Regions from separate parts of the Homo sapiens genome. Here all the other regions are linked to region 1. The links come from fine-mapping of genetic effects on gene expression. A gene starts in region 1. Each other region holds a variant in brackets. All regions are shown on one strand. Distances are between the middles of the regions.

Region 1 (5,194 bases):
TCCAAATTCTAGAGCCATCCTCATCCTGGAAGCAAGGGGGTGAGGGTGTATAAAATAAATAGATTAAATTAAAATTCATCTAGTATTTCTTCTAAAAACTGGTGAGATGACAGTTTCCCAATTTATAGACTGCCAGGAAGCCGGGGCTTAGAGAGCTCTGTTTTTTTCAAAGTCTACTCGGCTAGCCACAGATGGAGATGAGACTGGACCTCAGACAGCCTGGCCAAGGGCCTGTCCCCACTGCACTTCTTCCATGTCCCCTGGCTAGTCTTCAGTAGGGTCCCCAAAGGTCTTTTTGCCTGGGGGCCTGGGGAGGGGGTGCATGACTTCTCTTCTTCTCCTGAGTGCCAGGTTTCCCCAGACCCCACATCCTTCCCCACTGCCCTGCATTCCAGGACCAGGAGGGCTGGGGCAGGGCCAGAAGATGGAGAGGAGCCCTCAGCATTGTGAGATGCTCAGGGGTGAAGGGTGTCCCTGAAAGTCCCTGCAAGCTCTTGATGTGCTTGACCTCATAGCCTGGCCTCCCTCTGCCTTTGGGCTTCTGTCTAAAAGACCCTCACATTCCTGAGAGCCACAGGAAAGCACCTTCCTCAGTAGAATGTCCAACTGCTCTAGTGAGGGGCCTCCTGCAGGGGTGGACAATTGCTGAGGTCGATGTAGGGGAACAGGGGGAGGCCCCCAGCCTGCCCCAACTCACCACTCAGTCAGGGAGGCCCTGACTTCTGCCTGTGTGCCTCCCTCTGCTGTCCGCCAGTGCGCCTCCGTGCCTTTGTCTCTTGTCTCACTGCCTCTTTCTCTGCCTCAGTCAGGCTCTCTCTCGGATTCCTCCTCCTCCTGAGCCCGTTCCTCTCCTCCTCTCCATTCTCATCAGAGAGGAACACTCATCCCTCTCTTCCAGAAACAATGGAGCACCATGCTCCTGTCCGCTCAGCCTTTCGGTTGGTGCATCCTCTTCCCCATCTCACACTCCCAGCTCCTGGCCGGCCTCATCACCCTGTGCTCCACACCTAGGAAAAGTATATCTGACTTGGTCCCCTTATCCCCGAGAAACCACTAAGAGAACCTTCAGGTCTCCCCAGAAGCCGAAGCTGAGGAACTGGGCTTGCCCCAGGGCATCCTCCTGTGAAGCTCCTTGGTCTCCGCCACGGGCTCCAATCCTGTTGCTGGAGCTTATCTCCTCAGTGATTTACCTGCCCCCTGCTTCTGGTGGAACAGTGAGTAACTGCCCAACCAGAAACCTACACACACATATTCAACACAGCGCCTGCAAGCTTCCAGCTCACCTGGACCTGGAGTGATCCCCAAGCATCCTGGGGTCAGGCACAGAAACAGGAACAGCGAGCTCCTGGCTCCAGTGCTGAATGGGGCACAGATGCATTAACTCTCCCAGTCCCATTAACCTTAGCAAGTATTTCTGCTTCCATGAAAAGGGGAAGAGGGAAAATGTCTCTAAGCTCTGGAACCTTTGGCAGTGCTGGGCATGGACTGGGCAGAGTGAGAAGTCTGTCTGAAGACCCTGGGAAAGGGTCTTCACCCCATGGGAAGAAAGGGAAGGCTTGATGTTTGGTCCAGTAAGGCCATTAATGGTCACCAACTGAGCAGACTCTGGGAGGAAATGTCTCAGTCTCTGCAGTGGCTACCAGCAGAGGTAGGGCGACATAAGCACAGAAGACAAATCTTAGAAAACCCTAGAACAACAGTCCTGTGCAGCCACATGCCCCACAGCCCTAGTAACTTAGGGAGTGATGTGCCTCCCATTTCCACACAAACACATCCAGGCATTGCACAGTGCTAGGCCCTACGACATCCGTACCCCAACATTTTCAACAGTGCGTGCTACACAGCCCAAGCTCTAGGCCCCATTGGGCACCCCACCTATGCAGGTGCCCATGCACTGGGCTAGCAACTGTCAGTAAAGGTCCCCTTCCTGTATGTCCAGAGTCCTTCAGCTCCAGCTTCTACAAGAATCCATGCAGCTAGGCCTGGCTGGGGGAGGAAGGGGACAGGGAAGTTGGCCAAGGCTCCCATGTGTGTGCATGTGGGGGTGGTTCTTGACCTTAGCTGCTTGGTACGGGGCTGTCACCTCCTTACCCTGGCACTGTCGGACCTGGTGGCTTCCTTCTCTATTTCCTGCCTCAACTCTCAGCCTCCTTTTTCTGGAAGTTGTGTGCTCTGACTTTGGAGGGATTGGGACCTCAGACCTGAGCCCAGGTGCAGATGGGAGGGTGGTGAACTGGTCGCGCCTCCTTCCTCCTTGCTACACCGAAGGTCCCAAGGGCCCTTTGCCACCCTTGCTACCCCTGGGTCCCTCAGCGCGCCCCGCAGAGCTCGGGCCCCCTCAAGAGAGTTAACTTGGCAGTGCCCAGGAGCCAGAGAGCGATCCAGAGAGCGCTGTTGGGCAGCAGGGGTGGGGAGGTGGGGGACGACTGACCCCTGACTCCTCATCCGGCCACCAGAAACCACCTGCTGAGGGGGCCGGGAACTGACGACTGAGAGCCCGGGCCGATTGTTAGAAGCTGCTGAGAACCAGCTCTTCCCCTAATCCCGGTCGACGAGGGCAGGCTGTGCCGGGTTTTGTTTCGCAGCCCCTCGGCAGCAGCGCCTCCCAGCCCGAGCTCGGTTCTCGGCCCCCTTTCCAGCTGCCCCCAGCGCGCGCAGCGCACACACACACACACACACACACACACACACACACCCCAGCGCGCGCCCGGGAGGACATGGCGTGGGCACCGATGGGGACGCAGAAAGGGGCTCTGTGCGCGGCGGGGCGCCCGCGGGGGCGCGGGGAGCACTGACCTGCGGCGACGAGTCCGGAGCGTCTCCGGTGCGGTCCATCGCGGGCAACGGCCCCTACGCCCCGGCCCCGGCGCCCCTAGACCGCTGCCCTGGGCCGCGTGCGGCTCCCTCCCCGGGGACTGTCGGGCTCCGGGCCCCCGGGGGCCACTTCATAGCCGCGGGGTCCGCGCGCCCGCCCGCCCCGCCCGGCCCCGCCGCCCCGGCCCGGCTCGTTCTGGGCTCAGCGAGGCGGCGGCCGAAGGCTGGGAGCGCGCGGGAGGGAGGGCGCGGGCAGGGAGGCGGGGGGCGGGGGGCGGGGAGGGGGAGCGGGGAGGGGGAGCGGGGAGCGGGCGCGGGGGCGAGAGGGGCGAGGGGGGCGCGCGGCCGGAGCCGAGCCGACCGGGCCGGCGCAGAGTCCCCGAGGTGGCGGCGGATGCGCCGGTGCCGCCGCGGCTCTGCCGGCGCCTCCCGCCCCGCCCCCACCCGCTCTCCGCCCCCGCCCCGCCCCCGCCCCGAGCCCGCGCCAGCGCCGGCGGGACCCGAGCTGCTAATGGTCGGTACCAACCTCGCCAGCCTAGGCGGGGGCGCGAGGAGGGAGGCCGGCGAGGGGACCCCCCCCCGGGATTGGTATCACCTCCCCACCGCCCCCCACCCTCCCCCGGCACCGTCCCCCGCGGAGGCGGCTCCCGCTTCAGGCGGCGGAGCAGGGGTGGCGGGCAGGGGCCGAGCGCACCCCCAGATCTCGGCTCTCGAGAGTTAAAGCTCGGCCCCCGCCTGCACCCCCATTCCACCCCGCCTCCATCCTGGCTGCTCCTGGCGCCCAGCTTGGCAGCCTCTCTCAAAGGGTGATTGTTTCCGGCCGGGCTGCTGCAGGAGGGCGGGGGGCGGCGCTCTGGGACCGAGAGGCCGAGCTGGGAAGCCGGTGGGGGATGCGGCTCCTTCCTTGGCTCCAGGCACCCCGGATGGGAGGTGGCCGGTGGGGGCGGACGGTGCCGTGCCGGGGTACGGGGTCTGCTGCCCCGTGGAAGGGCACCTCGAGCCGCCGCGCGTCAGCCTCACCCCAGCCTCCCCTTCCGGGCCGGTGCACCCGGCGTTCCGGAGAGAGGCCCGGGAGGCCTGCGTGGGCGGACGGGCGCGGGGAGGCCGGGGGCAGCGGGATCTCCAGGAGTTTCCCGGGCCTCTGCCGCGGTGTGTTGGTCGGCGGGGGACGGAGGCCAGTGAGTGGGCGCGCACTTGGACGTATGTGGGTGCACTGGTAGGGTGCCTCTGTGGAGCTGTATATTCCAGATACTCCTTCAGCTTGTCGGAGACTTTGAAGCCATCCTTGCACTCGTTTTAGAGGTTGGCATCTCCCGGTGCTCTTGGACACCTGTATTCGGGCCACACCCGCTGTGTCCTCTTCACAGCCCCAGGAGAAGGCCACCTCCCATGGCGGGGTTCGCGGCGGGACCAGGGACTGTCGGTACTTTCTCTAGGGTCTCCCTCCTTCCCGGGAAACCAGTTCCAGCCCCACTGCTAGGCACTGCTTAACCAGAGCTGTGCCCCCGTGCTATGGGCTGGGGCTGAGGACCACGGGCCTCTTTTCCATCAGCTTTCCTGCCCTGTTAGGACCAAGCCGGGCCCTGCTCTTCCCACTGAGGATGTGCAGGTGGGGAGGGGGCAGAGACTCCAGAATCAGCCCCTTTGGTCAAGATTTTGAGGGGAGGAAGGCACCTCACCGTCCGTATCATGCCACAGACATGTGAAAGTGTCCTTAGTGACTATCTCTAGGGATAACTGCTCCTCCTTGTCGTGCGCTCTTTCATTGTTGTGCTTAACAGCCCCCTTTGCCGGCAAGAAACTTCCTCTGAATCTAACCTCAGTACCTCCTGCTGCGGTACAGGAGCATTTCCCCCTTCTCTTAATGAGTGGAATCCCAGCCAGCCTTGCTCCGCCTTCTTCTGCCCCTACTACAACCCTCTCTTTTAGACTCTGCTAAGAGACCTTTCCTAAGTCGGTGTTCTCTGGTATTTTCCTAGTCTCCATACTCTGCTTCTCCTTAGACTCCACACCAGCTGAAGGGAGGGGAAGGGCAGGTGCAGAAGCAGGATGGGCGGGGGTACCAGAGAGCACCAAGGAGGGGCCAGGCCGTCCAGGAGGGCACATTGCCTCCCTCCTCTGCTAAGCCAGCCAGCCGCAGTCACACAATCACCAAATGGGAGGACAGAAATGACCGTGAAGACTGTCTCGTTCCAGACCCTCATTTTACCAACAGGGAAACACACCCATGAGGGGTGATCTCAAGAGAGCTCAGGGACATGGCGACGAGGAGGCCTGGGTTTCAGGCCGATTCTGAAGGCACTAGCAAAAGACTTCCCCTCAGGGCTGGTTTCAGTAATGAAACAGAGGGTTGGACTAAGTGGGCTGTGGTCCGACTTGT
Region 2 (5,194 bases), 21 kb before region 1:
CCAGCACTCACAACCCACCCATTGCGGAAGCAGGTTTGGAGAGTCCGGCCCAACTGGAGTCTGAGAAGGGGTCGCTGTCCAGGGGCAGGGGTCAGGAACCCTGGGGGGTGGACACCTGCAAGAGAGAGCAGAAGCGGATAGCCAGAGACCCAGGTATAGGAATGGATGCCAGCAAGGCTGGGCCCTGCTCTGGGACACACAGCATCGGGGGTTCCACAATGGAGCCTCAACTGTCCATCACCTGAGGACCTCTTTTGTCTGCCTGTTAGAGTGGAATGGGCTCTGTCCTTCCCACAGGCACAGGGCCATGGCTCTGCTCCATTTATGAAAGTCAGTAGGGTGCAGGGGTCAGAAGCACAGACTGCAGAGACACCAGGTTTAAATCCCAACTGTGCCACCCACAGGCTGTAAGACCTTTGCCAAGTCATTTCCGTTCTCCATGCCACAGTTTTCCCATCTATAAAATGGGGCACTGTGGATCCCTACCTCATAAGGTCATTCTCAGAATTAAACAGGGTAACTCCCGTGCAGCCCTAAAATGCCAGCTACTTATCAAAGCCTGGATAAAGGGGTGAGAGGTTTTATTTTCTCTCTCTCTTTTTTCTTTTTTTTAACCATATATGGACCACGAATTATTATATTAAAAATAATTTCAACATTTTAGATTTGGGGGCACATGTGCAGGTTTGTTATGGGTCATATTGCATGTGATGCTGAGATCTGGAGTATGATGAATCCCGCTGCCCAGGTATGAGCATAGTACCCAACAGGGCGTTTTTCAGCCGTTCTTCCTTTGAGAGTCCTCAGTGTGTATTCTTCTCATGTTTACAGTCATGAGTACCCAGTGTTTAGCTCTCACTCATAAGTGAGAATGCATCGTGTTTGGTTTTCTGTTCCTGTGTCAATTTGCTCAGGATAATGGCCTCCAGCTGCATCCAGGCTGCTGCAAAGGCCATGATTTTGTCCTTTTTTATGGCTGTGTAGTATTCCTTGCTGTATATGCACCATGTTTTCTTTACCCAGTTCACCACTGATGGGCACCTAGATTGATTCCATGCCTTTGCTATTGGGAATAGTGCTGCGATGAACATACAGGTGCAGGTGTTTTTTTTGTGAAACACTTTATTTTCCTTTGGATACATACCCAGTAATGGGACTGCTGGCTAGAATGGCAGCTCTGTTTTAAGTTCTTGAGAGATCTCCAAATTGCTTTCCATAGTGGCTGAACTAATTTACATTCCCACCAACAGAGTATACGTGTTGCCTTTTCTCTGCAGCCTCATCAGCATCTAATATTTTTTGGCTTTTTAGTAATAGCCATTCTGACTGGTGTGAGATAGTATCTCACTGTGGTTTCAATTTGCATTTTGGTGACAGTCTTTTGAGGACAAAGAAGAGATGTTTCTGGGATGGTCCCTGGGGGGAAGTACGAGAGTGCCTTCCTCTTCCGTGTCAATAGGACATCCTTGTGGAGCACCGCTCTGTGCAGGACAGAGCACCAGGTGCTGGGCTGGGCAGCAGCAAGAAGAGGGGTCCCCGCAGGGGCTGCCACATTGAGGGGAGACAGTCCTCCAAAATGAGAACAGCAGGGGGCCCAAGTGAGGAGAATGAGCCACTGGGATTCCTCAGTCCTGCAGAGGGTCCACTGGTAGCATCTCTGGGAACCGTTCTCTCACATGGCAAGGACACTGGGCGAAGAGACCTCCTGACCGCCTTGGAAACTGTCACATCCTCTTCTCCTCCCTTTTCACTTCTGTGCTGAGCACCATGCATGATGCAGCAGGGACCCGTGGGGGTGGTGGGGAGGGCAGGCAGCCTCGGGCAGCCCAGCCAGCCTCACTGTGCCCACCCGTCCCAGTGCCCAGTGTTGGATACGGACAGTACCTCACCTGGGGGCCATGCTGCCTGCTCCTGCCCCAGCTCACGTGTGCTCACCATTTCAGGCAGAGTCGAGTGCTATGGCCGAGGAGGGTTTTTAGCCCCTGAGTTTCCAAAATAGCGTGTTTTCCTCTCCTCACCGGGTCCTCTCTCCAAATAGTTCTGACGCCTGTGGAAGACCAGGATTTGTCTTCCATTAAGGAGCACTGTGGTTTCCCGGGACGGCCGGCATCCCCTCCATTAAGGAGCACTGTGGTTTCCCAGGACGGCCGGCATCCCCTGCCCACACCCCGCCATCAGAGGCCCACTCCATCCAGAGAGTCTCCCCCACCCATTCCCCGGGGAGTGGAAGACCCACTGGGGTTCAACGTCACAGGCACGTAGTTCCCCTAGTGGACATTCTAGGCCGTGTGTGTCTGTGTCCGCCCGTAAACTCCTCTTTGCTGGCCCAGTGAGGGACAGAGCCTAGAA[C/A]CCCACACGGGATGCCTGCTGGGTCTTGTGGTCTGAGATGCAAGTGACTTCATGCCACATCCCCCAGATTTAGCCTGTCCCTCCACACCCAGGCCACTGCTGGGGCTGCATGGGGCTGCGTGTCAAGACACGTTTTGGTTCTTTGGCCAAGACACGTTTGGATCTTAGGCCACATCTGATGAAGGATGGGGAGGCTGGGCCTGGCTGGGGCTTCAGAAATGTCCAGGAAGATTTCTTCTGTGTTCTCAGAGACTCTCGAAGGAGCTTTCTCAAGTGCTCCTGGTGTTGGTGCAGGTTCTAATACCAGGATGGAGAAAGCCAAGGAGAGAAGATGAGTGTCCTGCCAGCTCAGTCCCTGTGGGCCACTGCCTTTCCTTTGGGGCAGCCTCTCAGCCCCCGCTTGCACTGTTGTTTATACAAACTTCCCTATAGCATGAGAGATGTCCGAAGATGAGGCTCAGCTCTTCACATGCACCTGCTCCTGCAACGTCACAGCAGCCCTGTGCAGTAGGCATGGCTGTGGTCCCTGTGGGTTCATCGAGGCCAGAGAAGGGGAGTAACTTGCCTGAGGTCAACCATTAGGAAATGGTGGAGCTGGAATTGAGTCCAGGCCATCTGGCTCTATGCTGTCATCGGGGGCATAGGATAAGAGGTCCCAGGCCTCCAAGCCTCTCGAACCTGGGCCAGGCGCAGGGTGGGTAAGGGGCACACACAGGCCAAATGCTTCCTCTGGCCTGGACCACAGCCACCCTCCTCTGCAATGGCTGCCCCCACTGCAGGGCCCTAGCACCTGCTTGGAGGCTGAAGCAGGAAGGAGGGGCGGGAAGGGAAGAGAGGGGAGGATGGGGCCTGTGGGCAAGGGTGCCGTGGGGTGCCTTCTGCTCCCATCCAGTCTTTTTGGTCAAAACATCTATGAGAGAAAAGGGAGGGGGAGAGAGGGAGAAAACCTCTAAAAATAAACTCAGCAATAAACCCAGTTGTGCATTAATTACTCTGGAAGCCATTATGGCTTGAAAACCCCATAACTTTAATGGAGGCTATTATAAGCATAGTAGCAAAATCGTGGAGCTAATTACCAGGCAGTTATCAAGCAGAACACAGAGAGCCCCCAGCCTGGAGAACGCCAGCTGGCCGGCAGGGGGCAGGTCGTGGGATGTGATGCCTGGGCTGGGCAGGGGCTTGGGGCCAGGCAGCGGGTGGGCTGCACCTGCCCCCAGCTCTGGGCCCCAGTCTGAGACGGGGCTGCAAGGTTGGCCAGCACTGGTCCCCTCTCGCAGCCTGCTGCTTCTGCCTGGGGCTTGGAGGAGGGCGGTGTTTGTCTGTGGTCGCAGGCTGTCTCTAACAAGGACCCCAGAATGGCTTCTAGGACCTTGGGTCAGGCAGAAGAATCAGCACAAAGGTGCAGGAGTGGCTTGGCCACACCCAGGAGAGCCCAGGAGATGGAGGCAAGCACGGGGAAGAATGGGGTGCTGGAGGAGGAGATGGGTGGAGGCACAAGGGGGACTTCGTGGAGAGGCAGGACGCGGCGTGGGCAGTGTGTGTGAGTGTAGGGCCCAGGCCTGCCGTGGTCACAACTCCCATCCTGACACTTGCACCATATCTGTGACCAACCTCAGATCTCAGGCGTCTCGGCAAGTAGAGACACAAAAGGCTGTGCCCTGCCCTCCCCGGGTGCCCTCAGAGCCTCAGAGGGAAGCAAGCACTTCCCTGTGGGAGAGTGGAGGGTGGTTCCCAGATGGGGAGCAGAAGCTGGGGCAGCACATGGGAGTGGGAGGGTGGCGGCCTGGACGTGTCCGGCAGGTGCTCCACGGGGACCTGGGTCATGCTGATTGCCCTCCTTGACCTCGTCTTTACAATAGGGAGGTTGAGCTGGAAGTTTCAACGATCCTGCCATTTTAGCAACTGGAGGTTACCATAGGGCTCTGCGAAGATGAAGGGATGTCCTATGTGAGGAAAGTGTAGCTCAGTGGGCACCTAGGGCCAGAGGCGAGGCAAGAGCGCCAACAAAACAGCCTCCGTGGAACTGAGTCCTGACTTAAGGGCCAGCACCCGTGGAACTGAGTCCTGACTTAAGGGCCAGCACCCATGGAACTGAGTCCTGACTTAAGGGCCCGTGGAACTGAGTCCTGACTTAAGGGCCAGTATGCCTATGGAGATCGGCCATACTGGGAACACCTCTCTGCAGGAATTTGTGGCATTTGGTTTTGTTTTGAGAGACAGGGTCTCACTCTGTCACCCAGGCTGGAGTACAGTGCCATGATCACAGCTCTCTGCAGGCTTGAGTTCCGGAACTCAAGTGATCCTCCTGCCTTAGCCTCCCAAGTAGCTGGGACCACAGGTACCTGCCACCATGTCCAGCTAATTTAAAATTCTTTTTTGTAGAGACAGGGTGTCACTATGCTGTCCAGCTGGTCTCAACCTACTGGGCTCAACAGATCCTCCTGCTTTGGCTTCCCAAAGTGCTGAGATTACAGGTATGAGCCATGGCACCTCCAGAGAGGAATTTGTCTATGGGTTTTAGGGTGCTGTGCGCTGTGAATAAGGACTAGGGGGTGTCTGGGACTCAGATGGGAAGGCTCTGATTGACCCAGGCTGGGGCAGAACATGTGAGGCTGGAGCATGTGCAGGGGTGGTTCAAGGCTGGCCAATTGTAAAAGCATGGAAAGGTTTTCTTCTGAGCCTGCAGGTGTTCAAACGAAGGCCTCAGCAATGCCTCAGGCCCTGAGGAGAGGAGCTTATTTAATTTCACTCAACAAATATTAATTGAGCATCTGTAGCAGGCAAAGCACTGTGTTGGATTCTGTGGGCAATCCAGGGTGGGGAAGCTTTGCTCAGTCCAGAGCGG
Region 3 (5,194 bases), 32 kb before region 1:
GTCAAGTAGCACACACATCCCCGGCACAGCGAGAGCTCTGGGAGCCCCGTGAAGGTGGGCTGGGGGATGGTGAGCCGTGGAGCTCACTGAGGCCAGCAGGCTTGCTGCCCGTGTGTGGCTGCCCAGGGGGAGTGCAGGGGACATTCGTGGTGTGCAGCCCAGCAGCTGAGCCGGGTCAAGGGCTTATTAAATGGAGCTTATTAAAGGAAAGCTTGTGGACAGTGGCTTGGGAACAACATGGGGCAGAGTCCCTGGTTTTGCCCAAACTCACCAGTTCTTCTGGAACTGCCTCGGAACGACAAGCATGGGGCTAAGATGTGGATGAGACTCGGGCTACTTGGGTGTGGCCTGAGCCACCTGCAGGGTCTTCTGCCCCGCTTTACCTGAGTGTGTGCTTCTGCAGAGCTGTGTATGAGCTGGTTCCGTCAGAAAGTGATGGAATGGAAGGGAACCTTCCTGCAAATCCTCCTGTAAGGTGGAGAAGCCCCTTGGATCACACTTCCACGCAGACCTGAGCAGGACACACTGTGGTTTCCTAAGGTGAGGTCTTCCTACACCAGCTTCTTATTCTCACCCTTATTTTCTGCCAGTTAATTGCTCAGCTTCTCTATCAAAGTACCTCTTGGCAGAGCTTATTCTCCAGCGTTGACTAAAGATGTTTCCATTATCTTCCACACGGTATGGCCTCATCTAGGTCTCTTTGGAGAATCCCTCTTCATATCCAGCCTCTGAATGCTGGGGGTCTCTGGCCCACTCCTTGGGCTGTTTCTTTCCTCTGTCCACACTCACTGCATAGGGTCTCACCCGTGCACCTGTGGTTTGTAAACAGGTTGGACACCCGCGCCCGCCGATGCTGGGCTGCACCTGAGCTCCAGGTGTGTGGGGGCGCATTTTCTTCTGCATGTGTCTAACAGGCACCTGACACAGAGCTCCATTTCCCCACATTACCCCTCCTGCACGCAGCCCTGTATCTGGAAATGGCAGTGCTGTTCTGTGTCTCGGGCTATTTTGGACCCCTCTCTTTATCTCCCACATCCAATCCAGCAGCAGATCCTCCTGGCTCTGCCTCCTAAACTTGGCCAAAATTTGACTGCTTCTCTCTGCCCCAACCCCATGCCCCCACTCAGCCCACTGCATCTTGGCCTGGATGATTCCAGGAGCCACGTCTCCACCTGCCCTTGCCCTCTCCATTTATCCTCCGTGGAGGAGCAGGGCAGTTCTTCTTAGAGATGGATAGATTATGTTAGTCCTCCGTACTGGACCCCCTATTGCCTTCTGGTTTCACCCGGTGCCTGGGGACTCCCTTCTCCCACGCCCACCACATCCCTCACTGCTGTTGCCCCCAGCAGCCCCCGCCCCGTCAGTTGAGCCCGATGGCCTTCCTGCTGATCTGTAAGCAGGCTGAGCAACGCTTGTTCCGCCTGGTGGAGAGTTCGTTCTTCTTGGGCCCGGGGAGCTGCATGTCAGGGTGTTGCTGCTTCGCTCAAGGGTCACTTATCACGGAGGCCTCTGTGGTCACCCTACAGAGCACTGACCCTCTCCACTGCTACCTCTGTCTCCCCGACTCACCCTCATCCTCCATACAACAGATTGCATCTGAAATAATATGCATTCGTTATTGCCTGTCTCCTCTCGTCAGTGGGTCAGTTCTTTGAAAATGAGAGCCTTGTTTTCTCACTGCTGTGTGTCGGCTCCTAGAATGATGCCTGTTCATAACAGGCACCTGATACATACTTGTTGGGTAGCTAAATTAATAAATGAGAACAAAATAAGGCAGGGCTGAAGAGGATTAGGACTGTTAAAAACTGTATTTGACTTTTAATTTTGAAAGCAAATTAAATACAGTTAAATTAAAACAGACCAGATGCAGCTGCCTGGGTGCCACCCTCACCCCAGCCTCTGTTCTTAGAACTCCTAGCCCCTGGCCTCACTCCTGTGTGGTGGGGCTTGCCAGCGAGGGAGCAGGGAACAGACTGGGTTTGGAAAACAGTGGTCATCATGGACCCATTTCTGATTTATAACAAACTCATTCCCAATAAAGATGAAGGCTGCAGTCCACCAGGGTTATAATTATAAATAAATATACATGCAGCTAAAAGAGGATATTAGGTGAAAACAACTGACCTAGCATCTGCCCAAAGAAGTCCCCATTTTGTTGTTCATTATCAAAGTCCTGAAAATGAACCCTAGGTTTTTGGCTAAGAAGGTGGCCTCAGACCAGCCAAGCTGACCTTGGCACTTGGCTGGCTTCTGTGAGGCAGTAGAGTGCCCACACATAAGCTCACCACCTGTGCCCACCTCCTCCCTTCTCTCCCATGCCACCCCACTTGCTTCCAAGGGCTTGGTTTCCAAAGTGACATCCAGGGTGTAAGAGGTTGGGGAAAACGTCCTGCAAGGTGGCTCAGGGATCTGATTCCATCAGATGGTCTCATGAATACTGTGGGAGATTAAATCCATCTCAAAATAGGCAACCAATGCTATATTCTGAATGTTAGGTCTCTGGACTGAGTCCCACCCACCCACCCACTCAGGAGTGGGTTCTGAATGGCCCTCAGACCTCTCCTGGTGAGTCTTAATGGGGTGGGAGGCTGTTAGTTAAAAAATAAACACCTCTTCAGTAGGCTGGGGCCCTTTCCTTTTCCTCCACTTGGGGGGAAAATTGTGCTTCCAACTTGCAGGAGAATGAGCCGGATCACCACTAGAGAGCCCGGC[T/C]GGGCCAGGGGGTCAGAGCCCTTTCCAGTGGGCCCCAGAGGCCTGGGGAGGGCAGGAGTTTGAGGCACACTGTTCTTTCTCCAGGATGGAAAGTGGACAGCTGGACATGAGGTGGGCTAGCTCTGCATGCTCCTGACTTAGGGAGAAATAACATTTTCTTTCCCTTTTTTGTGTTTAGAATAATTTCCAAAGCAGTGTGCTCAGGCCTCCCTCCTGCTCAGTGTCCCAGCAGCCCCTGCCCCCTCTTTCCCAGCCCCTCTGCTACTCCAGAGTCCCTCCTCCTCAGACCAGGGGCAGGAGGGAGTTAGGGAATGGCCTTGGCCTCCCTCCTCTTTCCAGGCTGCAGGAGGTCCCACCTTGCCCACCACCCACCGCCTTGCCCACTGCCCACCATGGGCTCACTCCACCCTGAGGTCTGTGGCTCTGAAGAGCTGCAGGAAAAGGCGCTTTCCCTCCCCAGTCCAGTCCAGGCGAGGGGCCTAGCAGCCGAGGTGGGCGGTGGGGAGGCAGTGTGTGGACAGTGGGGCCGTGGGGTTCTTAGTCCAGGTCAGGCAGTGACCTGTGCTGGCTCTAGAGCCTACCCCTTTGCCACTGCTGGAGGAGAAGGGGTAAAGGAAGAGGGGCCGGAGGGGGGGACTCTGCTCCCGCCACAGCCTGAGGTACAGGGGGTGCCTATTAGGCCCAGGCTCCCCCCATGCAGGGCTGGGTGCCTGTTGGGATCCAAGACAGCCTTATGCTCTGTAAACGTGAACCAGAGGAGAGCCACAGAGGTATGTCTGATTTGGGGGCAGCTCTCGGGAAGAGCAGGGGCCCAGGAGAGGAGCAGAGCGCTCGTGATGCCCGTGGGCTGCTCTCTGGTCTTCAGAATTCCCTGGCTGGGTGTCCTGTGTGGTCGTGCTGAGCCCAGGGACAGGGAGCCAGGGAGGGCCATGCTCCACTTGACTGCGGGGTCTTCTTATCTCCCTCCCGCCCTGCATCACTGCAGGGCCAGTGTGGGCGCCCACTGCACCTGCTCCTGCAGCCCCGTCAGTGCGGGGAGCTCTGGGGAGGTGCGCTGGAGCACCAGCTTGGCTGGTGCTGGACACCCCACCCTGGCCATCAGGTCTCTCGGGCCCTGGTCACGCTGGATGGAGAGAACAACAGGTCTGGGATTTCTGTGCTTAAATTCTCTGTCCTTTGTTCTGGCATCAGGCTGGGCTCTCTCAGAAGCCCCCAGAATAGAAAGGAGGGTGATGGTGATTCCTTAGGAGTCGGCCTTGGAGGGACCATCAGCCGTGGGGAGAGGATGGAAGGCCAAGAACAGGGTCTGAGGAGGAGGCTCCTGTGAGGGGAGAGGAGGAATGAGTGAGGTGTCGGCTGAGGGTGGGGCCGGGGAGGGAATGGCCAGGCAGGGCCACCAGGACCTCTGCAAAGCCCAGGCCCCCAGGTCCTGTGGGGGCCTTTCTGAGGGGCAGGTGGGGAAGGTGCTTCCAGTGAGGGCAGTGAGGGCAGGAGGCAGAAGTGAGGCTCGGTACAGATGCATTCTAAGTGGCGCTGGCCAAGGTGACTGAGTGACACCCTGTGGTCCTCTGCGGGCAAACACAATACAGAAGCTATTGCTTAGCTCCAGGGCAAGAGGACAAATGTCTGTCTCAGGCCTCAACCTCTGTTTGGCATAACCTAGAGTAGGGAGTCAGGAGTACCAGCTGCTTTTAAGAGACAGGATAAGATCACAGAAAAGCCCCTGAAAATGCCTGGCTTTGCCAACCACCCAGCACAATTCACTCGTGCCAGTGTGTCACCTTGGAACATTCATTTAGCTTCTCTCAACATCATTTCTTTGCTTCTGAAGTGTAGGTGGATCCTGTGGCCTACTTCCAGAGAGGGCTTTAAAGACTTGAATAAAAATAGCCACACTGATGAGATTTAAGTGCCATGAACTGTTCTAGGTGCTCTCAGCAACCTACTTCACAGATGAAGAAACTGAGGCCCAGAAAAGTCAAGTCAGGTCAAACAGTGAAGAGCAGGGGTCCTGGGAGCTGAGGTGGGCTCTGGGTCCGTGCTGTCACTCTGCGCTACCTCTCACTATGACAGCCGTGGGCTCATTGCTGTGGAGCAGCGAGTCCGTGAGTCCTCACCATGGCCACGTGGTGAAGGAATCCACAGGGGAAGAGGCAGACTTGGGGGGACAGACGCTGGCCAGCGAGAGTCTGAATGGCAGTGCCTTGTGGGGTGCAGGCGTCACTGCCAGCAGAAAAATCAGCAAGATGTTTGGAAGGTGACACCCTCTGAAGAGTCTGGTGGCAGAAGGACCCAGCTGCGTGGGTGAAAGTTAATGCCTGGATACTTTCAGGTGGCCCAGTGGGAAGGGGACTGTGGTGACGACGCCCTCCACTCCTGCCCACATCTGCCCTGTCCTCCACAGTGAAAGCCCAAGAGGAAAAGAATGAGACAGTTGATTCGGCCCAACCTGGTGCCGCCCTGCCCAGTGTGTGGCCCACCC
Region 4 (5,194 bases), 85 kb after region 1:
TACATCCCATCAATACCTAATTTTTTGAAAGTTTTTAGCATGAAGGGCTGTTGAATTTTGTCAAAGGCCTTTTCTGTGTCTATTGAGATAATCATGTGGTTTTTGCCTTTGATTCTGTTTATATGCTGGATTACGTTTATGGATTTGCATATGTTGAACCAGCCTTGCATTCCAGGGATGAAGCCCACTTGATCATGGTGGATAAGCTTTTTGATGTGCTGCTGGATTCAGCTTTCCAATATTTTATCGAGGATTTTTGGATCAATGTTTATCAGGGATATTGGTCTAAAATTCTCTTTTTTTGTTGTGTCTCTGCCAGGCTTTGGTATCAGGATATGCTGGCCTCATAAAATGAGTTAGGGAGGATTTCCTCTTTTTCTATTGATTGGAATAGTTTCAGAAGGAATGGTACCAGTTCCTCCTTGTACTTCTGGTAGAATTCAGCTGTGAATCCATCTGGTCTTGGACTTTTTTTGGTTGGTAGGCTCTTAATTATTGCCTCAATTTTAGAGACTGTTATTGGTCTATTCAGGGATTCAATTTCTTCCTGCTTTAGTCTTGGGAGGGTGTATGTATCCAGGAATTTATCCATTTCTTTTAGATTTTCTAGTTTATTTGCATAGAGGTGTCTCTGATGGTAGTTTGTATCTCTGTGGGATAGGAGGTGATATCCCCTGTATTATTTTTTATTGCATCTATTTGATTCTTCTCTCTTTTCTTCTCTATTAGTCTTGCTAGTGGTCTATCAATTTTGTTAATCTTTTCAAAAAAAACAGCTCCTGGATTCATTGATTTTTTGAAGGGTTTTTTGTGTCTCTATCTCCTTCAGTTCTACTCTGATCTTAGTTATTTCTTGCCTTCTGCTAGCTTTTGAATGTGTTTGCTCTTGCTTCTCTAGTTCTTTTAATTGTGATGTTAGGATGTCAATTTTAGATCTTTCCTGCATTCTCTTGTGGGCATTTAGTGCTATAAATTTCCTTCTACACATTGCTTTAAATGTGTCCTAGAGATTCTGGTATGTTATGTTGTGTCTTTGTTCTCATTGGTTTCAAAGAACTTCTTTATTTCTTCCTTCATTTTGTTATGTACCCAGTAGTCATTCAGGAGCAGGTTTTTCAGTTTCCATGTAGTTGAGCGGTTTTGAGTGAGTTTCTTAATCCTGAGTTCCAGTTTGATTGCATTGTGGTCTGAGAGACAGTTTGTTATAATTTCTGTTCTTTTATATTTGCTGAGGAGTGCTTTACTTCCAACTATGTGGTCAATTTTGGAATAAGTGCAATGTGGTGCTGAGAAGAATGTATATTCTGTTGATTTGGGGTGGAAAGTTCTGTAGATGTCTATTAGGTCCACTTGGTGCAGAGCTGAGTTCAATTCCTGGATATCCTTGTTAACTTTCTGTCTCATTGATCTGTCTAATGTTGACAGTGGGGTGTTAAAGTCTCCCATTATTATTGTGTGGGAGTCTAAGTCTCTTTGTAGGTCTCTAAGAACTTGCTTTATGAATCTGGGTGCTCCTGTATCGGGTGCATATATATTTAGGATAGTTAGCTCTTCTTGTTGAATTGATCCTTTTACCATTATGTAATGGCCTTCTTTGTCTCTTTTGATCTTTGTTGGTTTAAAGTCTGCTTTATCAGAGACTAGGATTGCAACCCCTGCCTTTTTTTTGTTTTCCATTTGCTTGGAAGATCTTCCTCCATCCCTTTTATTTTGAGCCTATGTGTGTCTCCGCACATGATATGGGTCTCCTGAATACAACACACTGATGGGTCTTGACTCTTTATCCAATTTGCCAGTCTGTGTCTTTTAATTGGAGCATTTAACCCATTTACATTTAAGGTTAATATTGTTATGTGTGAATTTGATCCTGTCATTATGATGTTAGATGGTTATTTTGCTCGTTAGTTTATGCAGTTTCTTCCTAGCATCAATGGTCTTTACAATTTGGCATGTTTATGCAGTGGCTGGTACTGATTTTTCCTTTCCATGTTTAGTGCTTCCTTCAGGAGCTCTTGTAGGCAGGCCTGATGGTGACAAAATCTCTCAGCATTTGCTTGTCTGTAAAGGATTTTATTTCTCCTTCACTTATGAAGCTTAGTTTGGCTGGATATGAAATTCTGGGTTGAAAATTCTTTCTTTAAGGATGTTGAATATTGACCCCCACTCTCTTCTGGCTTGTAGAGTTTCTGCCGAGAGATCAGCTGTTAGTTTGATGGGCTTCCCTTTGTGGGTACACCCGACCTTTCTCTCTGGCTGCCCTTAACATTTTTTCCTTTATTTCAACTTTGGTGTATCTGACAATTGTGTGTCTTGGAGTTGCTCTTCTTGAGGAGTATCTTTGTGATGTTCTCTGTATTTCCTGAATTTGAATGTTGGCCTGCCTTGGTAGGTTGGGGAAGTTCTCCTGGATAATATCCTGCAGAGTGTTTTCCAACTTGGTTTCCTTCTCTCTGTCACTTTCAGGTACACCAATCAGACGTAGATTTAGTCTTTTCACATAGTCCTATATTTCTTGGAGGCTTTGTTCATTTCTTTTTCTGTTTTTTCTCTAAACTTCTCTTCTCGCTTCATTTCATTCATTTGATCTTCAATCACTGATACCCTTCCTTCTGGTTGATCGAATCGGCTACTGAAGCTTGTGCATTCATCACGTAGTTCTCGTGCCATGGTTTTCAGCTCCATCAGGTCATTTAAGGTCTTCTCTACTCTGGTTATTCTAGTTAGCCATTCGTCTAATGTTTTTTCAAGGTTTTTAACTTCTTTGCCATGGGTTCAAACTTCCTCCTTTAGCTTGGAGAAGTTTGGTCATCTGAAGCCTTCTTCTCTCAACTCGTCAAAGTCATTCTCTGTCTATCTTTGTTCTGTTGCTGGTGAGGAGCTGCATTTCTTTGGAGGGGGAGAGGAGCTCTGATTTTTAGAATTTTCAGCTTTTCTGCTTTGGTTTCTCCCCATCTTTGTGGTTTTATCAACCTTTGGTCTTTGATGATGGTGACATACC[G/A]ATGGGGTTTTGGTATGGATGTCCTTTCTGTTTGTTAGTTTTCCTTCTAGCAGTCAGGACCCTCAGCTGCAGGTCTGTTGGAGTTTGCTGGAGGTCCACTCCAGACCCTGTTTGCCTGGGTATCACCAGTGGAGTCTGCAGAACAGCAAATATTTCAGAACAGCAAATGTTGCTGCCTGATTGTTCTTCTGGAAGCTTCGTCTCAGAGGGGCACCCTGCCGTGTGATTGAAGTCCCCCATTGTTTTGTTTTGGCAGCTGATTTAGTAAACAAACAAGAATGAAGAAGGAAACCATAGCTGAGTGGCAGAGCGTGCCTGGCTGTTTACACAGGACTCCAGGGCAGGGCTCCTGGAGAGGGACGTGCCAGAGGGATGGGCCGAGGCCCAGGAGGAAGTGAACCTGCTCAGGGGCAGAAAGGAGACAAGAGAGAGGTGAGAGAGGAGGGCAAGAGCCAGGCCTTGGAGGCTGGGCCACCAGGAAATGAGTTTGCACCTTATTGGGAAGCCACTGGGAGGCTTGAAGGAGGGTAACAAACTATGATTTTAGAGACCAAAAAAAGGGTTCCTTGGTGCCTGGGTGGAGGACGGGCTTCAGAGGAAGAAACTGTGAGCTCCTGGAGTGCAGGCATGAAGGCAGGAGTGTCCTCGCTCCAGCCCTGGGCACGGGCCTAGCTCCTTGGTGCTCAGTGTGTAGTGGGGGCATGTATTAACTGGAATGGTGCTTTGCTTTTGTTCTCTGTACTTTGGGTGGTGGACAGCTTTCCTCTGTGGTGCTCTTTCTCCTTCCCTTCATTTTCCCAGGGGTCCATCCTCTGCATTTACCTGGGAGGGAGCTCTGTTACCTGGGGAGGGGCTCACAGTCCTAGGCAGAATGGGGGCTCCCAGTGCCAGCTCCTAGGGCAGGAGCGACAGCCTCAGAAGCCTCAGCACTCAGATCTGTATCACGGTCCCAACCAGAGCCTTGTTGTGTGCAGAGCCCTCCCTCTGCAGTGAAGAGCCTGAGGAAGCCATGTTCTCGCTGAAGCCGGAGTGGGCTGGCTGGGTGCCTGGCTCTGGCACTGAAGCTGCCTCTCGGCTCACCTCCCAAGCAGCAGGGCATCTTGGGGGAAGGCAGTGTCAGCCCATGGTGCTTTGCTCTGTCTCTGGCTCCTGGACTGGGCTCTGAGCCCAGACAGTTTAATGCCACTGTGGACTTCATTCCAGGGGGTGTGGGGACCTCTGGAGAGTTCCACAACCCCATGGGGTAGGGCTCCTGGTGCTGGTTGAGGCCAGGCCTTCAGTTGGACACAATTTTGTCGTTGCCGCCACTGACTGCCATCTGGGTCGCTGCTGTTAGTTCCCAGTGGGGCTCAGCTCCCCTACAGATGATCTCTGTAGCTCACCCCAGCCTGCAGATGGAGAAAAACAGTAGGCCCTGCCGGAACACGCTTTGGGAGCAGCCCATGGTGGCCTGGGGGCTCTACAGGAGCTTCCCCTCCCCCTCCCACCAGTGAAGAGGAAGGTGCCACCGGTACCCGAGAGTGTTGTGTGTGCCTCCATGCCTCCCATGTGCAGCGTGGCTGTGCACGTGTGAGAGTGGGTGAACATGCCCACGTGTGCATGCAGGTGCGTGTCCCACAAGACACCCGTGCTCACATGCACACTCCTGTGTGTCTGCTCATGTGTCTGTGTATGTACTCGACTCAACCCAGGTTTATCGAAGACCTGTTATTGAAGGTCTGCTATGGGCCAGGCCCTGTAGGGTACTCCGGGACTGCAAACTCGATCTTTTTTTGCTCTTATGGACTGTTTAGTCCAACAGGGGAGGCGGATATGAATTGAGCAATTAAAGGTTACATGTAAACTGTCAAATGTGAGACACGCTCCTGTGAGTTTTCATGTATTAGTGAATGGACGCTTCTGAGGGGCATCTGTGTCCCTGGGAGGAAACTTGTGTCTGCTGGTGCTCCCGTGTGTGCCTGTGCACACCCATGCTGGTTCTTGCACACACCTCGTCTCTATAAGAGGGCTGCAGAAAAGAAGACTGGATGTGCACGACATACTGAATCTGAGGATCTGGAAAGAGAGAGCAGGGAGCAATGTCTGAGGATGTCCTGGAGACTCTGTTGATGGGCCCCAGGAGACCGAGCCATGCACGGGACTCTCAGGTCCCTGAAAGAGCCGTTGAGTGGCCTGGTGGGACCACTCAGAGTCTGG

Alleles and levels. Positions count from the first base shown, and alleles are read on the strand shown. Sizes are in standard deviations (SD) of each study's normalised expression. Not every link is listed here.
With allele C in place of T in region 3, the expression in sun-exposed skin of the gene that starts at base 3,232 in region 1 is higher (small effect, 0.28 SD a copy in GTEx).
With allele A in place of G in region 4, the expression in minor salivary gland of the gene that starts at base 3,232 in region 1 is higher (moderate effect, 0.70 SD a copy in GTEx).

Evidence for each region. PIP is the estimated chance that this variant, and not a neighbour inherited with it, causes the effect.
Region 2: its variant is the best candidate, but not a certain one, in a credible set for the expression of B3GAT1 in whole blood (TOPMed, PIP 0.82).
Region 3: its variant is the best candidate, but not a certain one, in a credible set for the expression of B3GAT1 in sun-exposed skin (GTEx, PIP 0.56).
Region 4: its variant is the best candidate, but not a certain one, in a credible set for the expression of B3GAT1 in minor salivary gland (GTEx, PIP 0.58).

Annotation. Positions count from the first base shown.
Region 1 is chr11:134,409,011-134,414,204 of GRCh38, forward strand. B3GAT1 (beta-1,3-glucuronyltransferase 1) reads right to left here and starts at 3,232. Exons shown (of 6, transcript NM_054025.3): 1 at 2,797-3,232. RefSeq lists an enhancer at 1,821-2,380.
Region 2 is chr11:134,387,826-134,393,019 of GRCh38, forward strand. It overlaps B3GAT1 (beta-1,3-glucuronyltransferase 1), which reads right to left. Exons shown (of 6, transcript NM_054025.3): 2 at 1-115. Among named protein-coding and RNA genes, the nearest start is that of B3GAT1, 22 kb to the right of the region's middle. The variant C/A (reference allele first, on the strand shown) is at 2,350.
Region 3 is chr11:134,376,715-134,381,908 of GRCh38, forward strand. It overlaps B3GAT1 (beta-1,3-glucuronyltransferase 1), which reads right to left. Exons shown (of 6, transcript NM_054025.3): 6 at 1,794-4,033. It overlaps LOC124902798 (a long non-coding RNA gene), which reads left to right and starts at 82. Exons shown (of 2, transcript XR_007062961.1): 1 at 82-540; 2 at 1,350-1,627. RefSeq lists an enhancer at 1-646. The variant T/C (reference allele first, on the strand shown) is at 2,713.
Region 4 is chr11:134,494,438-134,499,631 of GRCh38, forward strand. All of the region lies in intron 5 of B3GAT1-DT (B3GAT1 divergent transcript), which reads left to right. Among named protein-coding and RNA genes, the nearest start is that of B3GAT1-DT, 61 kb to the left of the region's middle. The variant G/A (reference allele first, on the strand shown) is at 2,999.